Regions from separate parts of the Homo sapiens genome. Here all the other regions are linked to region 1. The links come from fine-mapping of genetic effects on gene expression. A gene starts in region 1. Each other region holds a variant in brackets. All regions are shown on one strand. Distances are between the middles of the regions. Region 1 holds the start of IFIH1 (interferon induced with helicase C domain 1). Region 2 overlaps IFIH1 (interferon induced with helicase C domain 1). Region 3 overlaps FAP (fibroblast activation protein alpha). Region 4 has its middle 7.2 kb from the start of DPP4-DT. Region 5 overlaps IFIH1 (interferon induced with helicase C domain 1). Region 6 overlaps IFIH1 (interferon induced with helicase C domain 1).

What was found.
Region 2: its variant is fine-mapped to the expression of IFIH1 in whole blood (INTERVAL, PIP above 0.99).
Region 3: its variant is fine-mapped to the expression of IFIH1 in whole blood (INTERVAL, PIP above 0.99).
Region 4: its variant is fine-mapped to the expression of IFIH1 in whole blood (INTERVAL, PIP above 0.99).
Region 5: its variant is fine-mapped to the expression of IFIH1 in whole blood (TOPMed, PIP above 0.99).
Region 6: its variant is fine-mapped to the expression of IFIH1 in nasal epithelium (TOPMed, PIP above 0.99).

Annotation. Positions count from the first base shown.
Region 1 is chr2:162,315,549-162,320,697 of GRCh38, forward strand. It overlaps IFIH1 (interferon induced with helicase C domain 1), which reads right to left and starts at 3,136. Exons shown (of 16, transcript NM_022168.4): 1 at 2,307-3,136. The coding sequence starts at 2,759. It also overlaps a transcript of GCA not described here. RefSeq lists a silencer at 2,931-3,020 and enhancers at 3,051-3,600, 3,169-4,368.
Region 2 is chr2:162,266,178-162,271,326 of GRCh38, forward strand. It overlaps IFIH1 (interferon induced with helicase C domain 1), which reads right to left. Exons shown (of 16, transcript NM_022168.4): 14 at 1,910-2,100; 15 at 1,302-1,392; 16 at 897-1,202. The coding sequence ends at 1,023. Among named protein-coding and RNA genes, the nearest start is that of FAP, 25 kb to the left of the region's middle. The variant C/T (reference allele first, on the strand shown) is at 1,909.
Region 3 is chr2:162,212,481-162,217,480 of GRCh38, forward strand. It overlaps FAP (fibroblast activation protein alpha), which reads right to left. Exons shown (of 26, transcript NM_004460.5): 10 at 3,418-3,521; 11 at 1,458-1,593. Among named protein-coding and RNA genes, the nearest start is that of FAP, 28 kb to the right of the region's middle. RefSeq lists an enhancer at 1,632-1,801. The variant A/T (reference allele first, on the strand shown) is at 2,307.
Region 4 is chr2:162,079,515-162,084,663 of GRCh38, forward strand. No RefSeq gene overlaps it. Among named protein-coding and RNA genes, the nearest start is that of DPP4-DT, 7.2 kb to the left of the region's middle. The variant C/G (reference allele first, on the strand shown) is at 2,800.
Region 5 is chr2:162,276,016-162,281,164 of GRCh38, forward strand. It overlaps IFIH1 (interferon induced with helicase C domain 1), which reads right to left. Exons shown (of 16, transcript NM_022168.4): 8 at 3,981-4,097; 9 at 2,190-2,313; 10 at 1,400-1,678; 11 at 672-931. Among named protein-coding and RNA genes, the nearest start is that of FAP, 35 kb to the left of the region's middle. The variant C/CT (reference allele first, on the strand shown) is at 2,190.
Region 6 is chr2:162,291,424-162,296,572 of GRCh38, forward strand. It overlaps IFIH1 (interferon induced with helicase C domain 1), which reads right to left. Exons shown (of 16, transcript NM_022168.4): 4 at 2,141-2,245. Among named protein-coding and RNA genes, the nearest start is that of IFIH1, 25 kb to the right of the region's middle. The variant G/A (reference allele first, on the strand shown) is at 3,038.

The DNA of each region.
Region 1 (5,149 bases):
TCATAAACACTATTTCTGATTTGATGTTGACTAAAATACTGTGAGAAATTTTATGATGTCCATTTTCACAGGTAAATGTAGCATCAGGGAACTTCAGTAATTTGGCCCAAAGTAACGCATATAGTAAGAAGCCAAGATGGACCTCAAATCCATGTGTTCCCCTTCTACAGTCTTATCACACTTTGCTGCTGTAAGATAAACATTTGTCAATGACCACCACCTCAATATAGATTATTCTACCAAACTTAATGCTTCCGTCTCATTGTCCACCATATCTTAGTTTTGGAACTGATAATACATGTAAATGATGCACACAAAAATTATTCCACACTCTCACAGAGAAACTATTGCTTCCTAGAGAGCCTCAAATTTATAGCTGCTCAGTCTTTTGGGGCCTCCTTTGAAATGTGAATCAGAGGGAGAATTTGGGTTGTTTTGGCCTTAACTGCTACCAGTACACAAAAGTCCCGTTACTCTATATCTTCTTTGTGTCAAATCCCTTGCATTACTGCTAGCTGCCTCCAAGCTTGCCAGAATCAAGAACTTGGATAAAATCTAGCTGGCGGAAATTCAATCCAGGCAAGACAAAAGTGATGCTGATAGGCAGAAGTATTTAGAGTAAATAGGGAGAAGTGCTGTTTCGCTGGCAATCGGGACATCATACCCACCAAACATAAACAGCTTTGTGGTGTTACTGGACTCTGTTGCTTCTGGACTTCTAACAGCTACTGTGGCTGGAAATGCCATCTTCCATCTCCAGCTGGCTTGAAGGCTGCATACTTTCTTCCAAATTAAGATTCTGCCACAGTGATGTACACATTTGTCATATCCAGCTGGACTACTATAATGCGTTCTAGCTGGTTCTCAATACACAAAACGACATAAACATTACAGACAACAGTGCAAAGTAATTTACTTGTTGGGAAAACTGGCCATCAAAATTAGATGCATGTTTGGGTCTTTGGACAGGCCCTGTGTCTGTCAAGTCTACAAAAGATCACTAACTTTATTCACTAAAGACTAAATTGCATCATAGGCTATAGCAAATCAATCAAATGCCCAGAAGTTTGTATGAATATACAAACAATGGATGACCCAAAAGAGAGAGAGAGAAAAAAACCATGTGAAAATCATAGAGTGGTGTAGACAAAGCCTTTGACTTTTAGTCATGGCTTTATTTGTCTACATGTCTTCCAAAACAAGACTTTTGACTTACGAGCCTGAATAAGTCACATTCAAACAGGTCAGCATTTATACACATCACAGTACATCTTCACTTATCAAAAAATAATTCATATCACATTCAATGTAAAGTCATCAGTAAAATTCGCCCTGTCAAAATGCTACCTTAAGAAAAATGAGTTTCTTCACTAACATGAAAAACTGAAACTAGCAACACATTCTTTCAATGAATTGTTTCTAAATTTTGATTCTCAAAGAATGTTGAAACTTTGATTAAAGAAAAAGGGTGTGTGTGTGTGTGTGTGTGTGTGTGTGTGTGTGATTGCAATTTACCCATTTGGGCTAAGACTAAATGGCACAAAGTGTAATGTAGGGCAAAGATTGGAAAACTTTTTCTCTAAAATGCCAGATAATAAATATTTTTGGCTTTAAGGGCACACAGTCTCCATCCAATTGCCTTTGGAGTAGAAAAGCAGCCACAAGCAATATGTAAACAAACGAGCATGACTGTGTTCCAATAAAACTTTATGAACACTGAAAATTAAAAATTGAAAAATCTGAAGACCATTCTTAGCCTGTGGGCCTGAAAAAAACAGTAGCAGGCTTGATTTAGCCCATGGGCCGTAGTTTACTAACCCCTGCTCCATGGAACTACATTAAATAAGAAAAACATTCAACACTATCACAAGCTAAATTCTTAGCTCTGCCACTGTTTTTCCTGGGAGACCTTGGACAAATTATTTAACCTGCCTCAGGTTTCTCATCTGTAAAATGGAGTTAATAACATTAGGAGCCTCAGTGGGTTACTCTGAACATGAACTGTAGTAATACATTTTGAAAATGATACCAACTGCACATAGTAAGTGTTCAATAAAAGTTACCTGTTAATACACATTACGATTCTAGAGTTAACTCCTTTTTACTTCAGTGAAAACATTAGAAAAGTAGTTCTTTTGTGTTTAAATTTTTAAAATTGTCTTAAAGTGCCTAGATGTTGTCTTCTCAAAGGAAGAAACTAGATTTGCCCAAAGAGGTCAAGCACATTTGGAAAGGGGCAAACGCACAAGGAAGCCTGCTTTGCAAAATCTGCCTAAAAGGCTAGCTCCATCTGAACAGACACCTACCCGGTTTCTGTCTTCAATTGTCAACAGTTCCTCCTCCATGCACTTATCCAAGACGTCTCTAACTAGAAGCTTGTCCACCAGAGTGGGCTGAAGGAGGTTCAGCAGTTGGAGATATTCATCATGAGCGTTCTCAAACGATGGAGAGGGCAAGTCCGTGAGCTCAGGGTTCATGTAGCGGGCGGCCAGAGGGCTGCCGGTTCTCCGGAGGGCCTCCACGAATTCCCGAGTCCAACCAAGGTGCCAGACTCCCTTCTCCAAGGTGCTCAGCAGCAGTTCAACTGCCTGCATGTTCCCGGAGGTGGCGACTGTCCTCTGAATCTGCTCCTTCACCTCTGCAGGCAGAAAGGTCAGGTAGTCCAGCACAGGCTCCACCTGGATGTACATTTTCACCCTGGCCCTGAAGCACGAGATGAGATAGCGGAAATTCTCGTCTGTGGAATACCCATTCGACATCTTTCTTTCTCAGAGAAGGGAGAGGGTTCTCCCAAGCAGATGGTGCTGTTGTCTGCGGGACAGGTGAAATGTGCGTGCCGCTGTCCGCTGCCCACTTAGAGAAGCAGGGTCTACCGCTCTGTGCCTGACAATGACGAGGTTGTCCACAGGGCTCTCAGGCCGGCGCGCGGGGCTGCACTCGCACCTGGGCAGGTGGGCAGGCGGGCAGGTGGGCAGCGGGGCGGCGCGCGGGGCCGCGGCAGGCAGGTGCGGCCGGCAGGCGCGGCACTTTGGACTCTGCGGTGTGCGCCTGGGGTCCCGGACCGGGGCGATCCTGCTGCACACTCGGGTAGGAGCTTTGAGTCCAGCTTTCTGTCAGGCAGTTCTTACAGAGTTTGCCTGACTTTGGTTTCTGTTTCGATTCTCTTCTCAGGACTTTGTAAACGTAATCTGCCTGGCGGGGAGGGAGTTTCCTCAGGGAGACGCCACCTTTTGGTCGGGGCGGGTGAAGAGAGGAGGCCTTTGGTTAAGGACACCGCGGGAAACAGAAAAGGAAAGCGAATTCTCTCTGACACCAAGACCAACGCTCTAGCAAAGCTCCTCCGGCGGATATTTTGTTTTCCCAGCAGGTTCTGCCTTAACAATAAGGTCCTTTGTAGGCCAAAATGTGCAGGGCATAAAAGCATGTGATTTGGGACTTTCCAAAGGGGAAGTGAACAGAAACTGCCACAGACCCGGACGTGAACAGGGAGTTACCCTCGGCTGGTGAATGTAGGCAGGCCTGGCTGAGGGTGGTGAGACTGCGAGGGACAGGTGAGAGATGAAGCTCAGAAGACATCTTTGCAGAGATGTGGAGAAGACAGGAGGAAGTCCTTCCTAAAATAAACCTGACCTCCTGTGGGTTCCCAAACACTAACTTGTTTCCCTGGGAATTTGGAGGTGGGTTCGAAAAAGTGAGTAACAATAAACAGTTAACTTTACTGCCTCATATTTAGATTGCTGGTATTTATGCAGCTTTGACCAGGACCTGGTAACAGATGTGGATGGACTTGAACCACCAACTCAGCTTAGAAGGAAGCCAAGACTTAAAGTTTCCTAGATCCCAGCTTGTAAGTTCCCTATATTCTTTAATATACAACTTTCCTTTAATAAAACAAAACAAAAAAATCCCCCAACAACTTATTTTTGATATAGCTGCCATTCTTTTCTTGGATTCAATACAGCAAGTTTTGGCTGGAGCAGCTAGGAACTTAATTAGCAACTAATGTACCAACTTGTAGTAAACATCAACATTTGTCTATGTCATGAGAGAAAAAAAACATATTCACACTGAAAAATGGCAGCTTCATTTTGGTACAGAAGCCACATAAATGTGAGTCCTTAAGGTTACTACTCATTCTGAAGGCATTCTGTAGCCACATGTGACTGTGGGTGGTAGGCACATACGCACCATAACTAGAATCTCATGGTCCAGAATTATATAAAGGATGGAGAGATCATTTAGGTTATCAAAGAGACATATTTAGGAAAAATAATCTGTTAGCAAAGTACATTCAATAAAGTCTGTGTAGGCCAGGAAAACCTGATAGTGCTTTGAACAGGATAATAGAAGTACAGAGTCTTGGTGAGTGTTTACTAGGGGCATACAAAATATCCAAATGAGCACTTTATGGTAACATGTCTTATTTTATTCTCTAATTATCTTATGTAGCAAGGCTTTTTCTACCCCTGAAGGATTGTAAGCTGCTTGAAGAAGGGATATATTTACATAGTAACTAGTACACTACTCACAACTGGTGGGCTCTTGATGACATCTCTCCTGGGAGTTGTATTTGAGTTGACCATAGCAGCTGGCATAATGTTAAATACACTGAAAGTTGAAGTAAATGAAACCTTGGGCTTGCAGGTAGGCCTGATTTATACTGTTCTTTTCTGTTTCTTCACAGAACCCTACTCCTTTTTCACTTAATTTTGGGAGATGACCTTGTACCCAGATAGAGGATAATCCAATTAGATGTTTCTACAAAAGCACTCAAATTATTAATTTTAAGTATTGGGTCTATGAAAATATCTTTTAAGGCTGTTGCAAAAACATACTCCTATCCCCCAGCTGCCAGTGGGTTTTATTCAACATGTTAAAGCACAAACTAACAAACCAAAAAACATTCTTTTTCCTGGCACTTATCCTTCTGTTTCTTGGTTTCAAACATGGGGGAATGAGAAGGGGTTGCTGACTGAATATGGGGAACCAGTTAATGTTATTTTCTTCATACCACTTAATTGTTGCTCTGGAAGAGAAAGGATCAAATGTTTGGTATTTGACCTGTTCTCAAATAATAAACATTTAAACCAAAGATATTTAAATATTTGGCATTCAAATTATATCATTCATTGTATCATCTAGTCATTTA
Region 2 (5,149 bases), 49 kb before region 1:
TAAGCTACTTGATGCTGCTTCTTAACTGGTCTTTAATGGTACTTCACAGTTTTTAAAGTACTTTCCTATGATATCATTTAGTTGCAAAGACTGGGCAAGTGATGTAGGAGGCAAAGCTCTAAGATGGTCCCCACGATTCCCACTGGCTGGGGTGATTCCCTGAATAATCCCTTTGCGGTGAGTGTGGGCAGGACCTACGGATATGATGAGACAGTCACTTCTATGGTTACAGTTAACCTATCTAAGACTCCATCTGAGCAGACTTGAGAGAGAGATTCTTCTTCTGACCATGAAGAAGCAAATATCTGTGCTGGGAAAGAGGCTTGAGCATGCTGTGTGGTAGGGGCATTGCTGGAGCTGGGAGCGATCCCCAGTGGACAGACAGCAAAACAGCCATCTTAGTCAGACAGCTGCAAGGAAACAAACTCTGCCAAAACTCTGAATGAACTTGGAAGTGGATTCTTTCCCCAGTGCCTCCAGATGAGAACACAGTCTGGCTGACACCTCAATTTCAATTTTGTGAGACCCTGAGCAAAGAACCCTGCCTTTCTGACCAACAGGACATGTGTTATAATTAATGATTGTTGATTTAAGCCACTACCTTTGTGGCAATCTGTTATAGAGCAATAGAAAATTAATAAAAAGTAAAACTAGAGAATGTTATGACCATTTCATCGATAAGGAGACTGGTTCAGAAAGATGAACTGATTTGCCTAATTTTATTCTGAAAATTAGTGACAGAACTGAGACTGGTACTTTGGATTCTCATTTGTACTTCAGCATTCTTTCCACAGGACTATAATGCTCCACACTAATGAGAATTATTGGTAGATTTTCCTTACCTCTGCCCAACAATAAGATGGATAATGCATAATATATTGTGTTCTTAAAAAGAGTTCAATGCAGAGTAAAACAATCATTTTATTGATTCTTATGTCAGTTCTGTAGCATAATGAATACATTAATCATAATCATATTAAATGTTTAACTGATAGTATTTTAAAAGAATCTTCAATCAAGTGCTAATCCTCATCACTAAATAAACAGCATTCTGAATAGTCAAGATTGGGAAATGTGATAGGTAATTCTACCCACTTTTTGTATTGTTTCTTTGTTGAATTATTTTTGAAAACCACTACAAAATTCCTTATTTTGAGACAAGGCAAATCTAAGCCTTTGTGCACCATCATTGTTCCCCAAGCCTGGAAAACAAAAGAGAGAGCAAGAGGAAAATTAAATGTACATGCAATTAAACATTCCTGTTGGCTAAAGTAAAATCTGGCCCACAGCAATTTACTCACCTGGCCACATTTGCAGATGATTTCACCATTTATTTGATAGTCGGCACACTTCTTTTGCAGTGCTTTGTTTTCTCTTACAATGTAAAGTTCCCTATAAGTATCAAAGGGAAAGAATCATCATGGAGAACTGACAAAATACCAGTGTGTAGTTCATGGGTTATTGGACCTGGAGCTCATCCGCATGCCTGCGGTATTCTACACGGCATTCCTTCCTTCCCTCCTGCTTCCCAGGCTTGTTATTGCAACTAAGGCAATGCTTCTCTTCTACACATACCTCTCAAGGGGCATGTTGCCTTTCATAACTTCTTTCAAGTCTGTTGGTTATATTAACTTGACTTTAGTTGTTCAAAAATTTGAGAACAAATGATGAGCATACAAAAATACGTGCCTTGGATCAAAATGGCTTTGGTTCTTACACTTCTCTTTTCCTGCCCCAGTGCAGTTTATTTAAAACATAGACATTTAAAATAGGAATATAATTGAGAGGCTAAAGGAGAGGAAGTTGTAAAATAAATGAATCTCATTTGCACTATTTTGAAAGAACATTTACAATGCAACCTGCTTCACCCCTTGTGGAAAAATGTAAAAATGGGTCTTTCTGGACTCA[C/T]TTGAATTCTGGGGTCATATTGACGTGATGCATTTTCTCAATTACATGGATATCTTCCCCAGAACAGGCTAGCACACTGCAGTTTTTGCAAAGGAAAGTTATTAGTGATGGGTTATTCTTGTAATGCTTGGCAATATTTCTCTTGGTTTTCATTTTCTTTTCCATTATACTTTGCATCTGTAATTCCAAAATCTGGACAGAGAAAGGAATAGTTAGTGGTTTCAGGTTTGTTTTCTTTTTTCAGTTTCATAGAAGTAAGTCTCCTGAAATTTGGAGGTCTTAGTTGTGAAAATATACCCTTAGCTTATGGTCTAGGAAATAAAAATAATGAGGTAATGACCCCCCAAAGAATTTGGTATATAATCATCTCCTGTAACCATGAAAATGTGCAGTCTTCAGGTATTCAAAAAGTAGCCCATTCCATTTCAGAAAAGTTCTATTGTGAGAAAGTCCTTAGCAATATTCAACAAAAATTCTCTGTCTAGCCTACCCATTTGTTATTTATTTATTTATTTATTTATTGAGATGGAGTCTTGCTCTGCTGCCCAGGCTGGAGTGTGTTGGTACTATCTCGGGTCACTGCAACCTCCATCTCCTGGGTTCAAGGGATTCTTCTGCCTTAGACTCCCAAGTAGCTGGGATTCCAGGCACCTGCCACCATGCTCAGCTAATTTTCATATTTTTAGTAGAGATGGAGTTTTGCCATGTTGCCCAGGCTGATCTCAAATTCTTGATCTCAGTGATCCACCTGCCTCAGCCTCTCAAAGTGCTGGGATTGCAGGTGTGAGCCACTGCGCCAGCCTACCCATTTGTTTTAATTCTGTTCCATAAAATAGGTCTAAACTTCCTTCCACATGGAATCTCTTTACTAAACACTGTTATTACATTACCAAGTCTTCTCTAATCTATGCTAAGCACCCAAATGCCTTTAATCTTTTTTCATGCTTTATAATTTTCAGACCCTTCACCATCTTAATCAGTCTACTCTTTACACATTTGTAGCAGAAACCACTAGTTTTTCATTCAGTGTCCATTTTTCCTAACAGAACCATAATTTTATTCTGGGTGGAAATATGCTAGCTAAATGACTACATTTCCAAACCAGCAGTCAATGACATGTAAAAAGCTGTTGAGTGGAATTTTCAGAAAATCTTCTTAAAAATTAGATAGCTGGCATGTGTACCTTTCGCCCTTTCCATTCTCCTCTTACTTCCTGCCTAGAATGAGGATGTGGCAGCTGAAATTCTAAAAGCCATCTTCGACCATGAGAATGAAAGCCCAATGCTATAACAGCATAAAAAGGAGAGAAAAGGCCTGGATTCCTCATAACTTCATGGAGCCAATACTGCCTAGATTCCTTCTGTGAGAGAATATGCCCATCAACCTCTTTATTCTATGCTCTGTGACTAGCAGCAGCACTTATTTTATAATGGAAATAATCTAGTTTATGTAACATATGAAAGTTGACATAGGGACTGAACAGTGTTTATACCAACACAACTTCACGGTAGAAAAATCTGGTTCTTGAATAATTTACCGCCAAACTGACCTCTCATAGATGACATATTTATATTAAATTATGGAAGAATTAATTGTTTTCTTTAAGACCGAGGGAGAAATTTTCAGTAAAAGTAAGTCATCAGTGCAGTTGAACAAAGCCCATCTCTTTGGCTTCTAACTCTACATTTTAGATCTCCCTTCAAGGCAGCCATATATAGCATAGAAAAGAGAATAAAACCTTGCAAGCAAGCCTGGAGGCTATATAATAGATTAATCAGACAAGTACCAAGATTAATTTCCTATGTAAATTATAGCAAAATAATACACTGAAATATTTTTCCCTAAAAGTTTTAATAGGTTACTTTTATAAGACATTTACAGTTCAATGAGCTGATAAGGTAATTATAGGATCACATACATGTGGGAATTAAGAAATGTGTATGAATGAGTCAGAAAAAAAATAAAGCCAAGGTAAGTGTATGGATTTGTAATCAGGACATCAGAAGCTAAAAGACTAACTCTAAAATAGTAAAGGAATTTGAAGTAACTAGAGGGGTAAACAAACAAAAAAAAGAACTCATAATAAATATACAGGAGGCACAGCTACAATCAGCCTAAGTCCAAATAAAGTGTAATAATGTAGCAAAAAAATTGAATCAATGCTAGAGAAAAACATTTATGATGATCAACTTGCTCCTAGAAGTCTGATTTAATTTTAAGAAGCTCTGTTATGTTTAAACTGTGTTTATGACATGGAAGAAAGATTTCATCTTATCTGTCAATTCTCATCATTCATTAGTGGTTGTCTGAAGATTGTGTTGAGAAAGATGCTCAAATTAGAAGAAAGTAAACATCTTCCCAGTAGCAATGTTTTCTACAGGCTTTGAACAGATTACTGGTGGCATGTAGCCCTCCTTCCCCATTGCCACTCCTACTCTAAGTTCATCTACCTGAAGTAGTTTTAGGAGGGCAGGTTTCTTGGCCAAAGGAGACCTAAAAATATAGTCCATTCTGGGGCACCCAAAGGGACAGAGTCTTATTCTAAAGAATGTCTGGAAGAATTTGACCCTTAAACTCCAGAGATTGTCCTAGTGTTGACCCCCAAAAAACTACTCTTAAAACATCAGTCTTTGTAAACATCTACTTGATTAATTCTCTTAGGACATTAACTGGGAGGCAGTAACTTTCCAGTGGCATAATTTGGTGACAAAAGTTTGATTTGATACTCTAAAATATTTGCTTTGCCTTGTATTTAAAGGGGTTTTAAAATAAAGTTTTGTGCAGAAACCTGGTCAGGAAACCTTGGAGTTGGTAATAGCAATGCACACCAATTTGAAAGCATCCCTTTAGTGAAACTCTATTTAAGGTAGAGCCAATTCCAATGTTAAGAAACTAACATTCACACCCATATGCAAGGGTGTGAATTTTCTTCTAAATGGATTGTTTGCTATTATAGTAGTTACAGTTTTTAATTCAGTGGTATGGGGGATTTCCTGAAATACTATAGAAATACATTCTTTCTTCACTGCATTCCTTTGCACAACTCAAATAACTGTGTGTTAGTAAATTGAGATGTAGCTAGATGACATATTCTGTATTTTCTTATCATTCAGATGCAGCTTCCCTGTCACTCCTTCTAAGAGACCTTCCTCAACCACCCAGTTGAAAGTATCCATCTAGTCTATGCAGCCATAAAAAAGGATGAGTTCATGTCCTTTGTAGGGACATGGATGAAACTGAA
Region 3 (5,000 bases), 100 kb before region 1:
AAAATACGCTTCTAGCATATTCCATCAAAATTAGTCGAGCCTCTCACAGACACAGTAGTGATTTAAAGAAATATTTTTAGCCTGAGTAATGTTGACTATTATAGTCCTGATATATTTCCAAACAGACTCATATGACTTTTTTCTTGCAAAACATAATGTCCTAATTTCTAGATGAAATTTAGTGATTTACTTTGTTTGTTCTGTGCTTTTCTTTTTACTTTATAAAATATGATTATTCTATATTTGTTTTAATGAAACATTTCTTCATAATTAGAAGACTCACAAAATGTACCCATCAAATATCCTATTTAAAGAAAATATTTTGTATCTCTTAGATTCTAATGTGAGTAATTAAGAACAGGCTTATTTTAAAGCTTATACATTGGTTAAGTGGTTTTTCTGACTCATTAATTCAACAGATTATGTTTGAGTTTGAGTAATAGAAACAATTAAAACTCAACAATAAATCTGTGCTTAGTTTTAAAGGCTTTTTCTGCCCAAAATTAGTACATGTCGGGTACTGTCCTAAGATAACCAGGTAACAGAATAATTTGATCTAATATCTTATGTCACATTCTCAGTAATTCTCATTTGATTTTAAAATAAAAATATTTGGGCTGGGTGCAGTGGCTCATGCCTGTAATCCCAGTACTTTGGGAGGCTGAGGCGGGTGGATCATGAGGTCAAGAGATTGAGACCATCCTGGCCAACATGGTGAAACCCCGTGTCTACTAAAAATAAAAAAATTAGCTGGGCCTAGTGGTGCACACCTGTAGTCCCAGCTACTCAGGAGACTGAGGCAGGAGAATCGCCTGAACCTGGGAGACGGAGGTTGCAGTGAGTCCAGATTGCGCCACTGCACTCCAGCCTGGCGACAGAGCGAGACGCCATCTCAAAAAAAAAACAAAAAACAAAAAAACAAACAAAAAAAACAAAAAACAAACAAAAAAAAAAACAGAATATCTGGCTTTCTTTTGATAATATCCATTTCCTTTAGAATTTTTAATTTTTAATTTTTAACATTGAATAGAACATGCCCCATTTGCATTTCTTCTCTGGTTCTTTTGTTTAAAACATATATATTTATCTAGTAGACCCATGTTTCGGTTTCATCTGCATTATTTTGCTTTTTATTGGACTGCCAATGTTATAATCTCAAAGGGCTGGTTTACCATTATAATTGAGAACCAGATATCTGATTTTCCCAATGTCATGTTGTCCCATTTTTTCTTTTTGGCTATTCAATTTCAAGGTTTACGTCATTCAAGAAAATAAAAGGTATCCTATTTATTTAATAAAATGATGGACCCATGAATACTGAGTGTGTTTTTGCAAAGCAGTTGGCAGTTGAATGCAGTAATCCTGGCTTTACAACATAAAATGTTAGCTATGGATGAGTCCCCACTATTGTGCCTTGATCTTCAGAAATACGTATCTGTGATCTTAATATACCCTACCTTTGGACAATCCCATGTCTGCCAGTCTTCCCTGAAGTCACATATAGACAGGACCGAAACATTCTGGACTCTTTTTAGCCACTGCAAACATACTCGTTCATCAGTAACCCACGTGAGCCAACTGAAATAATAATCACTGCAAATAAAATAGAAACAGGTAGTCACAACCATAAACCAGTTTCACACACAAATAATTTCTTAATTTTTGTTTTCTAAAGGATATATGTCATTATTATACATTACTTATTTAATAGGTAAGCAAGACAAAACATTCCTTTCTCTGGAGAGAAAGTTTAAATATCTCTACTTACTTAAAAAAATATCTATGAGAGTTTCTTCATCTAATGAAATCATTTCATATGTGAGTTTTCTCCCCGTTTCTGGATTTTAACATTTTAGAAAAGAATTTAAAACATAATGTCAAAGCTACTGATCAATCTAGAGGGGAAAAAAAGCATTAAACTTGCATTTTGCACAAGTAAACTCAATTTTTCACCTTATAATTAGTTGAGAGAGAGACAAGTGTGATAAAAGGATAATCTTTGTCTCTCAGCAGATTCATGTTGGAAGCTAAGTTTTAGCTGTGACTGTGGTCAGGTATTGAAATTCAGACTTGTGGAATAAATCACAGATGATGTATGCGAAATAACTCAAATAATGTTTGGCACATACTAGATGTCAGTGAATGGCAACGATGATTCCATGACTCTGAGCATGAACTAGTAGGTAGAGAACATCAACATAAAATGAATCACAAACTTCTGGAAAATTAATGTAAAGGAAATCACAAAGCTGGAAGGGACCTCAGGCTCAAATCCTGGCTTTATGTCCTAATAGTTATATACCTTT[A/T]GGCCAGTTACTTAACTCTTCTATTTTTATATAAAATCAGAATAATAATATTACCTATTTTAAAGAGTGCTGTAAAGATTGGCCGCGTGCTTAAACCGCTTAAGAACTATGTCTGCTACATGATGAGTGTTCAGAATACGTTTGCTACTACTATTTTATTGTTAGTATTTTACAGCTGTTCAAACAAGCCTCTGGACTCCTTGTGTTATGCTCATTTCATCTGCCACCTGTGGAGAATGACACTTTAAAAAAAAATGATGTATTGAGTCAAGTTTTCATCGACTCGATCAGGGTGGGGAATAGCAGATAATTCAAAAATATAAAGTCATGTTTGATTATACAAGAGTGGACTCAGCAAGGCCCAGTAGAAGCCTCTCATGGGGTTCTTTTCCCTATTAGTGATCAGTCATTTGAGCTTGGCTCTTCTTCGTGAAGCAGAAGGGGAAGACCCAAGATTGGCCCGCTAGGCATGGGGAACTGTTAAGAAAGCCCAACAGGCAGGGCCTGGGCACCTCTTCCCCTTAGCCACTTCAACCAGAAAGACCACAGAGGACTGACTGAAGGTCACTGTATTCTGGACTAGTCAGACAATCAGACATAGGGCATCATGCTGGGGAAGTGAGAATCCTTCACGTCCCTGCCTGCCTACAGTTCATCTCTAGACAATTCTAAAACCAGATAAATGAGAATAGCCTGCTTCATTGTGAAAAATGCTAATTTTTGGAGAGGGTCAGCTTATCTTCTCTTATTTATCATACACATGTGATCCACATAGATCCACAAACCCTGGCTTGAGATAAAGTCAGCCAAACTTGAAAGAAGCCAGGGTGAGGACGTACATGAATTTTACTGTCTGCTTGTTGGTCCCAAGTTCACATCTGTACATCTGAGGCAAGTTTCACTGAGATTGATCACCGAGGTCACGTTTATATGTGTAAAAGGGCTAATTTTGAAAAACCAATTAAGGAAACTTATTTGTCAATTTTAATTTTGTATGTCTTTAGCTTTGTGTGCAACTCTTATCTACTTATTTGTTTTTGCTTCTAGCATGCACAGCATAAATGCACTAGAATATAGGATAGAAAGATGGGAGGGATCTGAGATGAACTACCTTGAGGCTATCATTGCTGGAACAGGCACTTCCTGGGGACCTACATACGCAGGGTAAGTGGTATCGATAATAAATATCCGAACAACGGGATTCTTAGCTCCAGCCTGCCAAGAAAATTGAGATATATAAGCTCATAAAATTCCAATTATCACCAACATTTTAAAGAAACTTTAGGAATTTAGATATATTTTTCTAAGCGAACAATCTTATGTATATCACTGTGGAATACATTCTATTTATAACACGACAAGGAATCTCATTTCAATTTTACCTGCAGGGCAATTACAAATGTTGTGTCAACCAGAGCAAAACTATGTGTTTTAACTGCCTAATGAGAGAGCTTTAAAATTTATAGGGAAAATCATTTTGGATATGAAAATGCAGTTCTGTGAACCATATTCTGTTTTCTGATTTCCAAGACAGATCTCTCTCATTTTTATTATTGGGATAATTATAATAATCTGTATACCAAGGAGAGTTCAGAGGGTGATTAATTTGAGAGGAGAATGGAAAGAAAAATAAATGAAAGACACTTTTTGCTTTTGCCATATGATTTGGTCTAGGACAATCACCAAATGCTCAGTCTCCTACCTGCTTGCATTATTACTGCCACCATCTCCAAAAGGTTAGGGAAATTTCACCTCCAAATGAAGTATCCATGAGATTTATACTTTTCTTGTTTTGTGCTTTCTATACTACTGTATGCTTAAAATTTACATGACAGTATAGCTCATACCTAGACAGTTTCTTAGAGTTCCTCTGTTATTTTGCTGTAGAAAGAGAGAATCTTGGAGTTGTAATAAAATTTAAATTCATGAAATGTAGGTGCACAGTATGTAATGACTCAGTGCTGTTTGAATTCATCCAAAGAACTGTTCAACGTCTCTTAGGACCTCCGTTTCACTCCCAAGTTTATCAGAAACTCCCTTAGTTTTTGGGATGGTCTCACGTCTCCACCTAACGCCAGATGTTTTAGCAACCTTAAGCCTCAAGGAAATATGAGAATGTGGGTCCCAACTTCCCAATCAGTGTCAGTCACTCTTCAGTTCTGGGTTCCCCGTCTCTTCCTGCTCCCATAGGTCCTCCCAAAGATCTGAGTTCTTTTACATCTTGGGTTCCCCCAAAATGTGAGGCCTGTCCCAAACATCTCCAGCTTTTAGAGTTTTTACACAGCTTTTAGACTTTTAACATAAATATTACACTGTCTGCAATTCTATTTCTTTCTCTATGGCCACTTTGGCTTGCTTAGAATTCACTTGTGTGTATACCACATCCAACCGTCTTTGTCACCCAGGGACCCACTGTGTCCAGCCACGACAATATTCCCCTTGGCAAGTAAAAGCAATAGCATCCAAAGAACAAAGAAGTGAATTCTAAAATCGCATCCGATTCCTTGTGCAAGAGGTAAATTTGTACTTTGATTCCATTTTTTCTGATATCATTTTTACATTGAAATTAGGATATAATGCTTCTTCACTGAGACCTGACCATTCTCCTACTGCACACTCAGGTCTCCTCCCTCCAGATGTGAAACTCAATAAAAAGAATGTATAACAACTCTACAATGTTAAATATCCAAAAAC
Region 4 (5,149 bases), 240 kb before region 1:
TCTAGGGCAGGGGCAAACTGCCACCAGTCTCTTTGCTAAAACATGGCAAGAGTCACCACTGCTCCAGTTCTTAACAAGTTCCTCATCTGCATGAGACCACCTCAGCCTGGACTTTATTGTCCATATCACTTTGCCTGTTACCAGGTTCCAAAGTCTCTTCCACATTTTTGGGTATCTTTACAGTAGCACCCCACTCCTGGTACCAGGTTACTGTATTAGTCTGTTCTCACGTTGCTAATAAAGACATACCCAAGACTGGATAATTTATAAAGGAAAGAGGCTTAATTGACTCACAGTTCCACATGTCTGGGGAGGCCTCACAATCGTGGCTGAAGACAAATGAGGAGCAAAGTCACATTTTCCATGGTGGCAGGCAAGAGAGCTTGTGTAGGAGAACTCCCCTTTATAAAACCATCAGATCTCATGAGACTTATTCACCATCATGAGAACAGCATGGGAAAGACCTGTACCCCATGATTCAATTACCTCCTACTGGGTCACTCTCACACCATATGGGAATTATGGGAGCTATAATTCAAGATGAGATTTGGGTGAGGACACAGCCAAACCATATTACAGTGGATCTTTCTTTGTCTCATAGTCCTCAGGAGGAACCAATCCTGTGATGTATTGATTTTGGACTTATAGCTCCTAGAACTGAGAGATAATAAATTTCTGTTGTTTCAGCCACCCAGTTTGTGGTACTTTGTTATAGCAGCCCTAGTGAATGAATGAATATACTTGATCCATGATCATGCTTTCAGTCTCTACAGGATCCCAGTAGCAAGAGAGATGCCACTTTTTAAGTAGTGAATTGTCACTGGTTATTGTAGGCAGCCTCCAAGATGGCCCCTAAAGTTTTGGAAGTAATTTATTATGCAACAGTAGATAACTAATAAATTGGCAAAGAGTATATGACTTTTCTCTAAGAGTCATATATCTTCTGTGATTCTCTCACTGGGTTTTGCCAGAGGCTTCATACAGTGTCTCCGGCTGCCACATACATTTTAAATAAGTATTGTGCTTGTTAGGTCATAAGATCCAAGTACAACTTGCACTATAGCCTAAACATGCAGAGCCTTCTTTTGCTTCAGGATCCATTCAAAACAGGCAGCCTTTAAAGTTACTGAGTAAATGATTGGAGAAGTATAGCCAAGCATAGTATATGGTGTCTCAAAAATCCAAAGAGTTCTGGCAAATAGTGCTCCTCTTCATGGTGGATGTACAAGGTGTAGTGACTTGTCTTTCACATTAGAAAGGATACCTTGACATGTTCCAGACCACTGAATCCCTTGAAACTCTGCAAATTTTCCACGGATTTTATTCTCTACCCTGTGTCCACATTTGTCTTACTAAAGCATGTAAGGAACTTGCTACTTCTTGTTCATCAAGTCCATGTAGCATAGTTATCAATGCAGTGGACTAATGTGGGTCTGTGGGATGGCAAGATGCTCAAGGTCTTGGGAGATTTTAATATGACAGAAAGCAAGACTTGACATATCCCTGGAGTAAGATAGTGAAAATACACTGCTGTTCCTTCCAGGTGAAGGCAAAGTATTTTAGATACTTCTTACTAATTTGACTCAAGGAAAAAAGTGTTTGCAGGTGAACAGCTCAGATGTCCATGTTGTTTGATTCAGTAAAGTTAAACATCTGAAATGGCAACTGAGTTATTTTCCATAATCCATCCTAGTTTTGCACAAGCTAAATGGGAAAGTTAATTAAGTATGGGATGGGGGAAATAGCACCTCTGCATCTTTCAGATTTTTACGTAGTGGCACTAATTTCTGCACTTAGAGATGCAGTATTACTTTTAGTTTTCCATATTGTTGTGCAGGGACAGTACCAGGGTCTTCCACTTGGTCTTTCCTATCTACCTTAATGTCCCTTCCTGGGTCAGGGGATAAATGAGCAAAGAAATGTAGGCAGGCTCTAAGAGCTGGGAAAAGCAAAGAAATAGATTCTCCCCTAGAGCCTCCAGAAGGAACAGAGCCTTGATGATGCCTTGATTTTATCCCAGGAAGACCTATTTCAGACTCTGACTTCTAGAGCTGTAAGTTAATAGATTTATGTTGTTTTAAGCCACTCAGTTTATGGTAACTTGTTACTGTAGCAGATGGAAACTTAACATAAAGCAGGACAACAGTGATCTTTTTAACTCCATCAAAATTGGCATAAACCCAGGGCCCATATTTAATAACTCCAGGGAGGTCTGAGAATGTCCCTTTTCATGGGGCATTTTCAAACTTGGCTATAAGTCACATGTCAGGTGTGTACTGTGACAGCATTTCAGAGTCCCTCCTGAAAAAGATCTGACCTCCATTTCAAACAAGGTTTTCTGGGTCTATTAACTGCTTTGAGTCTGAGAACTTGATGAGAGTCCATTTATTACTACTATGAAAACTTAAGTCAAATTTCTGCCCATTACACCTAGAATTCTTTTGATCATTTAAATCAAGCTATAATTTAGAATGCTACCTATTGACTTCATTCTTAAGTATCTCGTGATAAATGAGCCACCACCATAGAAGTCAAAAGCCCTGATTATCATATTGTTCCTGCCACTGTTTATGGCAATATCCCCTTTTGAGAACCTGAGTCCTGGAGTTGGGGTTACCTAGGGTGAACTCTAGCCTTGGAGGGATACAGCCACTGCCAGATTGCAGCACAATAAAGCAGATAAAAAGCTTAAGGAGTAAATACCTCAGTCTCTTTCTCTTCTCTCCCTTCAGTATCTTGCTCGTTCCTCCCATCTGTTGAGCCCAATAAAGACAGAGGGCTAAGGAGCCTGGCTAATAG[C/G]AAATGTATATTCAGGGATCAACCTGCAAGGCTGTGCAATGCAGGGAAGAGAAGGGTGGAGAATGGATAGAGGGAGGGGGAACTTGAAAAAGAGCCACATAACCAGGCAACTCCATATAGTACTTATTATTTGCTAAACTATCTCCTTATGGAGACTGGAAACATTCCCTTTATTCCTTTATCTTCTCATCCATCATTCTCTCCAGTGCCTAGTAAAGTGCCTTAAATATATTAGCAGTCAGTAACTGTTGGTTAAATAAATTAAAAAATGAAATGATAACTGAAGAAAAGTTAAGATCAAATCTTTCTCTGTGTTCTTGGGGGCTGCAACTAGAAGACAGAAAGAAATAGGATCTCATATGTGGAGAGATGGCAGGGTGGAGGGTGGGGAGGTGAGGAGTGGTGGGGAACAGGGATGGAAAGGAACAGATTTACTTCTTGCCCTCAGTTCTGAAGGTTATGTAAAGGACAATACAAGGGTACTTATTTGTTCCTTTGATCAGTGGACATTTGCCCTCCACCTAATCAGAGAACGCTGCTCTACCTGTGTGGGAATGACTTCCTGCTGCCTTAGTGCCAAACCCCACATTTCATATCCTTTGGACTGAAGATCAAGTCTCACATCTTCCAGGTTATCTTCACCGTCTGTTTCTGTTTTATTTTCTCTTTTCCCTACCAACCATACTTGAGAAGATTACCCTGCTTGTGTTCCAGGTTGAACCAACCTTTAACAAAATTTATTTCTACAAAGAGATACGTATTAATAGATGACAACTAGCTGGCTAGATCATCCTATGGATTTTGATAGATGAAAGGAAGTTTCAGGCCCAAGGGATAACACACATAAGGGCTTGAGTAAGAAAGCTGGAAGATCTTTAGGGAATATGTATTACTTGCATTTTGCCAGGATATAGAGTATTCCAGAAAGTATTGGGAAATGAAAGTTGGTCATGAACATATTCTTGTCTTAAGTTCAATATTCAGTATATACCAAGGAGCCACTAAAATTTTACCTGGGAAAGAAACCCAATCAGACTTATACTTCAGATTTAAAAAAAAAAAGGCAATAGTGTCTGTTGGATGGAATGAGAAAGGGAAGAACTTAAACTGGGGGGAGAGTCAGTAAACTCTTGGTCTTAGAAAATTAATTGGGTAAGTGCCTCTCTGCAAAGTTTGTTGTACAAGCATGTAAACCATGCTTATTTATTCTTGTTAAAATATAACTCTAAAAACTTTTTCTCAGCTATGGTCATGGTGCTTTCCTTGCCCCAATTATCAGTAATACCAAATGAGGGATTGTTCTAGCACTCAGCACTCCGTAAAGGAGTGCTTTTTCTACCTTTCAGACTAGAACCAACCCAAGGGGTAAGGGCACTTTTGTGCTCCTCTTTGGATGGTATCCTTTGGATATTCTGTGGGTTTTTTAATTTGAAGAATTTGCTTATATTAGCCCCTGACTTAAGAAAAAAAATATGACTTAATGAAGAGAACGTGTTTGAAACCCATGGAGCCTGATTCTCACAAAGTGTCTGTAGCTACAATGATGTCTCCTCCTTAGTGTTCTCCAAGCTGTGAACATGGGCTAGATGTGGTGGCAGGGTAGGGGAGCCAGAGATCACCTCCAACCCCCCTGTAGCTCTTATGTAGCTCTTCTAGATTCAGCCATAGAGCTGAATCTAGAAACCAAATTGATATCAGGCAGATTAACAAGAGAAAAGTAAACAGATGTTATTGGTTTTTCATGTACATGGGGATCTTCATAAGAGACTGAAGTCTGAAGTGGCCAAAGCAAGATACTTTCATACTTTTTAGACAAAGAATGACAAATCTGAGAAGAAATCACAGGACAAAGGGAATCTGACTAAGAGCAGTACATTTCTAGGGGAGTCACTAGGAGATACATGAGGGTAGGGTGTAAACCTACTGGAAGATAAGGACTACTTCATTAAGTATGTTTATTCAGGTTCATTGCAGCCTCCTATCACCAGTCTCTGTTGACAAGGGCTATTTTCTTGCTCCAGTAAGAAAATATTCCTCCCACAGTAAGAAATATTTCTATTTTCTTGCTCCAACAAGAAATATTCTTCCCAGAGGAATCTATGGCTTGCCACAAGCAGGAAAAGACAGGCCAACTAACCCTTACTGAGGCTACAATTCTCCCAATGCTTTCAACTTGAAATAATCAATATACCAATTTGGCATATTTTGGGATGCCATGTCTTTCATTCCTTCATTTCCCCTGTCTGAAACTTCACTAGACGTTTCCAGCATTAAAAGCTGAGGTGGTGGCTGTGGAAAGAAATGACAAGTTAGTAACTGTGTCATAAAGGATTTGCAAACCAGGAAACAA
Region 5 (5,149 bases), 40 kb before region 1:
GGAGTTTGAATTTTCCACTTGATACTACATGGCAATCATTTCTGAACTTTGTTGTTAAGCTTACATGTCACTTATTTTTGCAAGGGAAACTTAGAAAGTTCTTCCAATTATTATGTGGGAAAAATGACTCCTAAAACAACACTTAACCTCTCAAAAACCACAGATTTGATTGCTATTAGCCTTAGATTTTATTTCAAGAACAGGTGTTTTATCCTGTAAATGTATTCATGGGTGGTGAGAGGATTGGTAGAAAAAGACTAAAAACAATTTGAGAAGAGTAATAACAGCATAAGAAAAGAAGTCCAGGCTGAGCGCAGTGGCTCGTGCCTATAATCTCAATACTTTGGAAGGCAGAGGCAGAAGGATGGCTTGAGCCCAGGAGTTTAAGACAAGCCAGGACAACATAGTGGGACACCTTTTCTACAAAAAAGATAAAAAAATTAGTTGGGTGTGGTGGTGCACACCTAGAGTCCCAGCTGCTCAGGAGGCTGGGGCTGGAGGATTGCTTGAGCCTAGGAGGTCAAGGGTGCAGTGAATCTTGATCATGCCACTGCTCTTCAGCCTGAGTGACAGAGCGAGGCCTCGTCTGAAAGAAAAGAAGAAGAGAAGAAGAGAAGAGAAGAAGAAAAGAGAAAGAAAAGAAAAGAAGTCGTCCAAAAGGATATTTATACCTGTGTCATGGGTTTGAACTCACTGCTGTGTCCAGCTCCAATCAGATGGTGGGCTTTGACTCCTACTTCAGCAAATTTTTCATTTTCAGTAATCCACTGGGAAAGCGCATATGCACTCTGTCGTGTTTTTGTAAAGATTATTCCTCGTGCTGATTCCTCAGTCCTAGTATATTGCTCCATTATGGTATTTCTTAATTTGGTCAGCTTTTCATTTTCATATTCTGGGTTTTCAGCCAGCCTTTTCAACATTTTATTGTTTTCTTTAAGAAATAATTAGAGTTGATATGTTAACAAGCTTGATTTAGCCACTCCACAATGTACAGATATATCAAACATTTTGTACACCAAAAATATACAGTTTTATTGATTAAAAATTAATTAATTTAAAAACTATTTGGAAGTATAAATTAGTAAAACATACAACGAATTACACTAGAAGGTTTCATGAATTGTGGCTCATCTACAATCTTGCGCTATATCTAATAATTAGGATGGTTTAATAAATAAATTCATTACAATTGTCTTGACAATAAAACTGAATGACCAAATGACTGACTGTGATCATACAACTGGTAGCTAATCTGGTCATATCATTAGAAATAGTTCCAATCTGAGTGGGATTTCTTCTTTCAAAAGATATTTCTCTTTTTGGAGAGCTTATGAGAAGCAGTAAGTTCATGTTGAAAAGGTAAATGAATGACACCAGTATATGTTACTTTGAATCTTACCAAAAAATAAAGTCATGAGAAATCTATCTGTTTCATCCAGTTTCAAAGGTTTCTTTAAATCATCCTCATCTTCATCACCATCACAATACTCATCATCACCACCCTCATCACTATCATCTTCTATGACTGCAAACTTCTTATCTTTCTCTTCATTATAGAAAGTTTCAAGATGAGTATACGCATCTATCATTCGAATTGTGTCATTAATTTGTAGGGCCTCATTGTACTTCCTCAAATGTTCTGCACAAACACGTTCTTTGCGATTTCCTTCTTTTGCAGCTGTGAAAAAATATATTATGTAAGTGAAATAATAAGCATATAAACCCCCTAAAATTGTGCCATGGACTTGAATATATGTTACTAACTGCAAAACTGGCTTCACCTTGGTTTTAAAATGGGCAAGTTAAGGCTCAAAATGTGTCCTGAGCTCTGAAACAGGGCAAGTTTTCCAACTCCTAGACTTGCTGCTTGAGTTCTGCCTCAGCAAAAACATGTAGCTGATGCACAGAGAAATGGCATGAAAATATATTAGTTGAGTTTGCCTTTGGAGACAGAGCTATTAAAGTTTATCTCAAGACTCTGGAGACAAAGAGAAAATTGGATAGCATTGGAATCTCTCTCCTTAGAAAAGGAATTAGAACATGTTTATTATGCTTGTCCTACAGAGAACACAGAAATTCTATTTGGAACTACTTTTGCTTTCCATTTTTTGGGGAATCTGTGATATAGTCATCTAAAATCTTGGTATAAACATGGGATAAACTAAGTGTTAGGTCCAAACCTAAATTAC[C/CT]TTTTTTTTCCATTTGAATGGCCCATTGTTCATAGGGTTGAGTTCCAAAATCTGACATTGGACTCATTTGACAATAAGTTTGAATCCTTGTCATTATTTCTAGAAGTTTCTCTTTAAATGGATCCTAAAAATAAAGTACACACTTATTCTTATGTATTCTTATTGTTAAAGGAATAACATTATCTTTGTTAGAATAATTTCTAGGTTATAATAAATCTGATTCATCTTTGTTTAGACAAAGTAACAGGTTAGTGTCCCATCACTTGTCTGTACATTTATTTTTGTCAGCTTCTCTTTTAAGCCTGCCATCAAGCCACACCCACACCAACACCCTGTTACCTCTGCTGGAATCTCCAACTTAAAAGGTTAACAAAAGTAAAGTTAATGAATTATATAAACCTTGTATGTTAAAGGTAACTTAGAAAACACATATTGCATTAATGCCACAATTATTTAGAAAGCTTACAGTGTAATTTAAGAAACATTCCTCCTTTGTAAAACTGGTTTCAGTATTATTTCGACCAAAATAAAAAGTTGAAGTAGAGTCTGAATAAAGCCAGAAATAAAGGAGTGCATGCTATATGATTCCATTTATATAAAGTTCAGAATCAGTGAAAACTCATTTTTTGTTTTAGAAGTCAAGATAGTAGTGATTCCTGGGGCATGGTGACTGGAAGGGGGAGCCAGGAGCTTTTAGGATACTGGCAGTGTGCTGTCTCTTGATTTGGATTTTGTTTACATATGTGTATTCAGTTTAGGAAAATTCAGCAATCAGTACACATATGAATTTGTACTTTTCTGTATGTATGTTATGCTTCAAGGTATATAAAAAAATTAAAGTAAGTTTAAAAAATGGCAAATTCTTTTAAAAAATGTACCTGAGAAATTTAGTTTTAAAAATCTTTATGAGTAGAAACATGCATTTAAAATTATCAAGTAAAACCAAATAAGTAACAAAAAAAGGAAAGTGAATAAAATATATTCAACTGTGCTAGTGCAGCTGGAGTAGATAGCAGTCTTTTTCAGAATTTAAAAAAAGAGATATACGGAGGCTAGTTACTAACATTGGTTTAGTGCCTACTATATTTCAAGCATTGTTTTATCTACTATGCATATTTCATATCATTTGATCCCAACATTCTTATTTTCAATGGTATTATCAAGTACATATGGCCAGAATTTGTAATGCTTTCTAAATTTTACAAAATAAAGTATTGACATAATTTACTGGCCATAATGTCCAAATTGACTCTCAGTTTATTCTTATAATTCCTGAAAAATTCATCAGAAAAGCATCATTAAAGTAAATATTTCACTTCTTTACCATTGCACTGTTTTCCTAAGAAAGTAAATATGCAAGTATGCAAATTAGATAGGATTCCCATTATCATTGCCAAATGTAATTTGATAGCAACAAAATGGCTCTGTGGAATGTCAGAAAATCAATCCTGGAATTCACGAAGAAAATTAAAAAGGCTAAAACGAACTGTCATAACCCCTCCAGCTTAGTTACACATCCCTCTGCCCATGGCCCCTCACTGTCCCTTTTAACTCATATGTACAAACAATGAATAAGCTATTCCTCATGTAAATTAGAAAACTAAAAGAGGTCTAGAGGCGAGAATTCACTGTAGTGCTTTACTGCCTAACATCAATTAAAAAAAAACCTGAAACTTGTTTGCTAAAATTTTTAAATAATATTTTTCAGATGGTCAGTATAAAATAGCCTTTGCCATCTTTCTACTGAATGTAGTATTGTCAATCAATAGATATAAAACATTAAGCCCATACTTCTCTGGTTGCATCTGCAATGGCAAACTTCTTGCATGGCTCCTGTATTTGGTTTTTCAGTTGATCAAGGTTTTCTTTAACAGTTTTAATAGTAAATGCATCAAGATTGGCACATAGCTGGAAAAGAGACATTTTTCAATATTTATGCAATTATTTTTCCCTTTCACTTTATTCAACGTAGAACTCTTTTTCATGTAAAAAATATGTAGCATTAAATTGTAGCATAAATATGTGGTATAAAATTTCATGAAAGTAATATGTAGCATTGCTTGCTAAATATAGCATTTTAACATTGTTTTATTATGGATCTCATTAACCCACAATCAGCAACATTTGTCCTAATATAGGAAAAAGGAGCTTCTAAATCAAGTTGGTGTAATAACAGAGAAAAAGGTGTATTGATATTCATTCCTTAAATTCCATTTTCCAAGTGGAAAACTGACATGGAAAGAGTATAACAATTTACCATCATTGACAGAGAATGATTTTGAGATAACCATGTTACATGAGGCATATCAAAGGTCAACTTGACATCCGTGGATCATACTACCACCTTCTTCTACACATAAAGCAGGCATCTACACATAAAGCTGGGAGCATCCTTAGTCATGTTCCTTGATTATTAGATTGGAATTAGTCCTTAATCCCAGTAATAAATTATATTTTGGAGCCTATAATTGCATCTCTGAATGTTGTGTCTACTCTACATAATTTGTATTGAATTCAACTTAAAGTAAGGGACTTAAAATTCAAATGCAATTGCCTTGGTACCAAAATACTTCTTGGGCTACTCTGATTTACTTAACACTCAAGATTAACAGTAGCACTGTATGTGGTGTTACCATTAGGGGGCAGCTGACAAGCTCATCTTTAAAGATCTTCATATCCCTATTTCCCTTTAATTTGAATTACCTAGATTCCTAGAATAACATATGAAGGACAGAAAATACGCAGTTTTGAAACTCATGGAGTAAGACTTTATTATGTGTGACAACTAGAAACTTTCATAGTTTATGCATATTTCTATATCAGGTAGATCATTAAATTTAACCATAAGAGTAGATGTTCAAAAGAAGGCATTCTATTTATCTCAACTTCCCATTAATTATATCACTCTCCATCATTTTTATGATATGATTTTGTGTTATTGATATTTATTAAGGCATATT
Region 6 (5,149 bases), 24 kb before region 1:
TCAGGCCAATATGTATTGCCAAAAACATTGCCACTTTTTGAGAGGCAATATATCTTTCTGAAAATGGGAAACAGAAAAAAAAAAGCCTCTCATAATATAATTAGAATATTTATACTTTAAAAGTACCGGTAATCATGTCTACTATGGCATAACACTTCCACAAAGGAATATAATATGATTGTTTTGGGTCACACCTTATGGCCCATATATGACCTCTGGAGGAGGAGGAAGGACATATAGAATGAAGTCCCTTTTGATGTCAACTTCAAAGATTAAAACACAATTGCAAATTCTATAATACTTTTCAGTGCCTCAATATGTGTTTAACAGTTCACCAATTTATCTAAACCTCCTTTTGAATTGGTTTCTATTTTAGCTTATACCAGGCACTTGTGGGCAAGGAATTTCATAATTTTACCATTTCGGAAATTGACTACCCACTAGGCAAAGTAATTCTTTGCTCCTAAGTACTGATCCATCTAGAACTTCAAGTGGTGTTCGTTCTGATGTGTTTGTCTTCAAATATGTATTTGCCTTTGAAAATGTATTTGCTTTTCAAAAGTAGATTGCGTTCAGACTTATCATGTGTTTCATGCCACATTGAGGACTAAAAATCAGCAAATACATTTGTTAACAGCTCTAAATAGGCAAGATGCCCTGCACATAGAAGGTACACATTAAATATTTATTGAATGAATGGATATTATTGAAAAGCCCTTACTTAGACAAATGAAAATTAGCATGATCTCCAAAAACTTAAAACAACCTATAATGATGTTAAATATTAGCTAGATTATCTATTTTGAGTTCTAGCATAGCATGTAATAGAAATGTTAATTATTAAATTGAACAATTTTATGACAAGGATAGAAAAAACAAATATAATCCACAGAAATAAGCACATGGCAAGAACTCAATAAACACTGACTGAATTGAACAGAAAATGAATTCACCCTTTTAAATGAAGATTAAAGTTGTGAATGACATTTGGTGAATTGGGTTTCCTCAAACTAATTTGTTCTAAGGGATTCAGGAGTGTCATTGTGATAAAAGGATATATGAAAAAAGAGGTGCTACAATCTAATTTGGAAAGCATTTAGGATTGATGACAATCTTTCTATAAACTATTTTGCCACCTTAGGCCTCTTGTGGATATCAATTTTTATAATTCTTCTGACAATGCAGGATAATCTGAATTATATAATATATTCTTAGGGGAAACAACTCAATCACAAATGAAGAATAAAGTAATGTGTTTCTTAATTTATCATTTTTCCAATGCTTCTTAGCTGGCCCCTTGCAAAGCATTTTATTTTTGTTTGTGATTTGTTCATTTTAATTGTGAAATACTTCAAACAGGTAGGCAAATATAGAAAGGTATGTAATAGAAACCCACTAACCCATCACCTACATTTAATAATGTTAACATTTTAGCTTAGTAGTCATCATGGAAATATACACTCAAAGAAAAGAAAGAAACAATTTGAAATCTATCAGACTAACAAATTGGAAAACTGATAACAGGAAGTAATAATTAAGGTGTGGGGAATTAGGAAGAGGCACTCTCATTTATTGCTGGTGGAATATACAACTGATATTGAAAGTAATTTGGGAAAAACCTGGTAAAATTTTCATTTAGTGACCGAAATATTTTGCCAACTCTACTCCTATTCAAAAGATACTTATACAAACTTGACTTCTTTTACTTACATATGTAATTTCTAGTTAGTCATACTTCTCTTATTGATAGTATCAATTTTTTATTTAAAAAGTATTTTAATTTAAAAAGTAGAATTTGGAAGTAAATAAATGTACCAAATTGAATACAGTCTATTTAAATGCAGTCAAATTAATTGAAACAGATCCCATAAATAAAATAGATGACATGACTCTATGGAATGTGGCATATGCCAGACCAGAAAGATATGTACTGGATCAAAATTAGAGAGTTTGGTTCTAAGAGTTTGTAAGTTACACTTTTAAAGAAAGTGAATGGCAAAGTTCCAAAACTATTTCACTGTAGAAAAGAATTGCTTTAATTGCATAAATACATTAGGGAGGGTATGAACAGCCCCCATGCTTCCACTATATGGCGTCTTATTTCACACTTTTTAAGGTTTACACAACAGTTAGGCAGTACCTGAATCACTTCCCATGGTGCCTGAATCACTGCCCATGTTGCTGTTATGTCCAAGACTTTCATCTAAGCAGCTGACACTTCCTTCTGCCAAACTTGTGTCTGATTCTGCAAAGGAAAACATTTTAAAATATTTTTAAAATATTTCTGAGAATAAACGTATTTTAACTGCACACCTCTACAGCACACAGTACATACAGTTCAATTCAAGTGGGGAAGGCACACCCAGACAATTATGAATAAAAGGTAAGCGCTTCTGGCAGGCTACATTAAGAAAAATCCACTATGGATGAGCAGCTGCTGGGTAGTGATTCAAATACATATTACCTACTTAAAGTACTACACATCCAGTATGAGAGCTAAAGCAAATTCCTAAGGGTTTATAACTTTTATTGCCCTTCTACATGTAAATGTTGCCCAAGAAAACACTATTTAGGTTTGATATGTCTTTTAAACAAAAAATAATACATAGAAACCTTTGAGGTCTTTTCATTTAAAATGATAGGGAATTAATAAAGTACAAAAATTAATAAAGTACCTGGATCTACTGATCAGTTATGAAAATGATAGTTTGGTGATAAACATAGATGTAAAATCTCAAAGAGAATTTGTTCAAAAAGAATATCACTAAAGCCTGGCATCACAGTTGTACTAGAAGCTCATGTGAGGTTGGAAATAACTGTTTTTCTTTACTATAATTAGATTAAGCCTCTATCAAAGAGTTATGGTTAATATGGATGAATAGCAGTGCACATCCTTCATTTATGAATCCTGACATTCTGTTTTCAGAACTCAGGATCAATTCTTTTTGAAAACCTTCTTTCCCTCAGAGAAGAATTCTTTTCTTACAGTTTATTTCCAAACACTTACACAACCTCATCCTCAAGCACCAGAACTATC[G/A]TTAAACTGGTAAAAATAAAGCAATGGTGGTTACTAATATTGGCTTTGGAATCAGAAGGACTTGCAAAATTTGCTATTCACTTTGCTCTGAACCTAACAAGTTCCCCTTGTTTTAAAGTGAGGCTAATCCCACTTACTTCACAGCCCTTGATAATCTTTAAGTAATATTAGGTACAACAAGCTCTTGGCACAGGACTTTAATTGCTGGCAATTAGAAAATGAAATAAAAATCAAGAAATGATATATTCTTAGGATAGGAGTTCCATTAGATAATGTTCTTCTTTTAATTAAAAATATTTTATAATATTTATACTTAGATAATATTTCATCCTAAAGCCTCTTAACACACCAATGAGGTAGCTCTTAGCTATTTAAAACTAGTCTGAGTGTCATATTTATGGCTGGAAATAAAAATGGATGAAAAAATAGACACATAGTATGTTTTAATAAAACTTCTCTGAAAAGAGATGATATACAACTCAAAACTGCAAATATTTCCTTTTTCCTTAAGTAGTTAATTTTTTCAAGTCAGCTATATTAAGATATAATTTACTTACTAAAAAGATTACTTTTTATGTTTATAGTTTGAGAAGTTTGACAAATGTATACAGTTTTGCAACTTTGAAGAGGTTGACATATGTATACAGTTACGCAACTACCATCACAGTTAAGGTATTTCCAGCACCCCAAAAGTCTCCTCAAGCCTCTTTGTAGTAAATCCCTCTGGTTATCTAATCTGGTTTCTGTTCCACATCAGACAACCAGTGGCAACCACTGATCTGGTTTCTGTTCCAATAGTTTTTCCTTTTCCAGGATGTCATATGAATGGATTCATGCAATATGTAGCCTTTATGTCTGTCTTTTAAAACTTAGTTTATAGTAATTGTGATTCATCTACGTTGTTGTGTGTATTACTAATTTGTTCCTTTTTATTGCTGACTAGTATTCCACTGAGAATCTGTGACATTTACATCTCCCATCCAATTTGGATGAGCCTATTTAGTTTAAGAGCTATAACAGAATTACAGCCAATGCCAATCAAATATGTAAGGTATCTTTCTTAAAAATTAAAAGTAAGCTGATAAGAAATTTGTAGAAAAATTCTCAATGGACATACATACTGTTTAAGTATATTAGCACAACATAAATATACTAATGTGAAAATACTGTGCTTATCAGTTGTCGCAGATTAGTTCTAAAACTCAGATTTGAGGAATCCCTTATGATCACACGGGAAAACCTGTATATCTCACTGAGAGATTTAAAATATGGCACCTCGCAATTCCCAGAGGTATGTCTTGTTAGAAGCTCAGAGGCGAATGTGGGATAGAACTGTCAAGTAGAAGAGCGTTTTGGGCAGATGTACTGATGAAAAGAGAATATGATTTGTAAGGAAAAGGCAAGGTGTAAAATGAGATGGGGAAAATGTCATTGCAAGAGTAATTCTAGATCTAGAAATATAGGCTAAGATTTTTGAGGCAAAAAAGTGAATTTTGACATGCTTTTCATTTGCTGTTTTAAATGTAATATTGAGAACTGAAGAGAATACCAAAATTACTGAAAAAATACTAACAAATATCTAAAATCTAAGACTGTATCATTAAATTTTCCAAGTATAATAAAAATGAAAATTATATTTGATTTCCACTTCATTTTCTAATCACTAGCAGTTAAACTTTAATCTTAAACCTACTTCATCTACATGTAGAGTCAAGATTTCTCCCAAGCTTTGTTCTAACATCCGTAAGTTTTGGGAGGGAGCTATTTATGCAATGTGCACGAATAATTGATGAATTGTTTTAAAAGTTGCTACCCAAAATAGGGTATTATTAATAAAGTCTATTATCTGGATTATTTTGATCTAACAAACCAATCACCAATGTGTCAGGAAGACACTGAACTCAGAGTTTTCACAGATGTAATGTAAATTTCATTTTAATCTCTCAACATTCTGTGTGGTAGATACATATTATCTCCTGTTTCATAGGTGAGAAACCAAGGCGCTGAGAGGTTAACTGATATATCCAGATCACACAGCTACAGTGGGGCAGAATCCTCATTTCTGAATCCAAGTCCAGTGTTCCAGTGCTTTTTCCGCTAACACTAAGCATG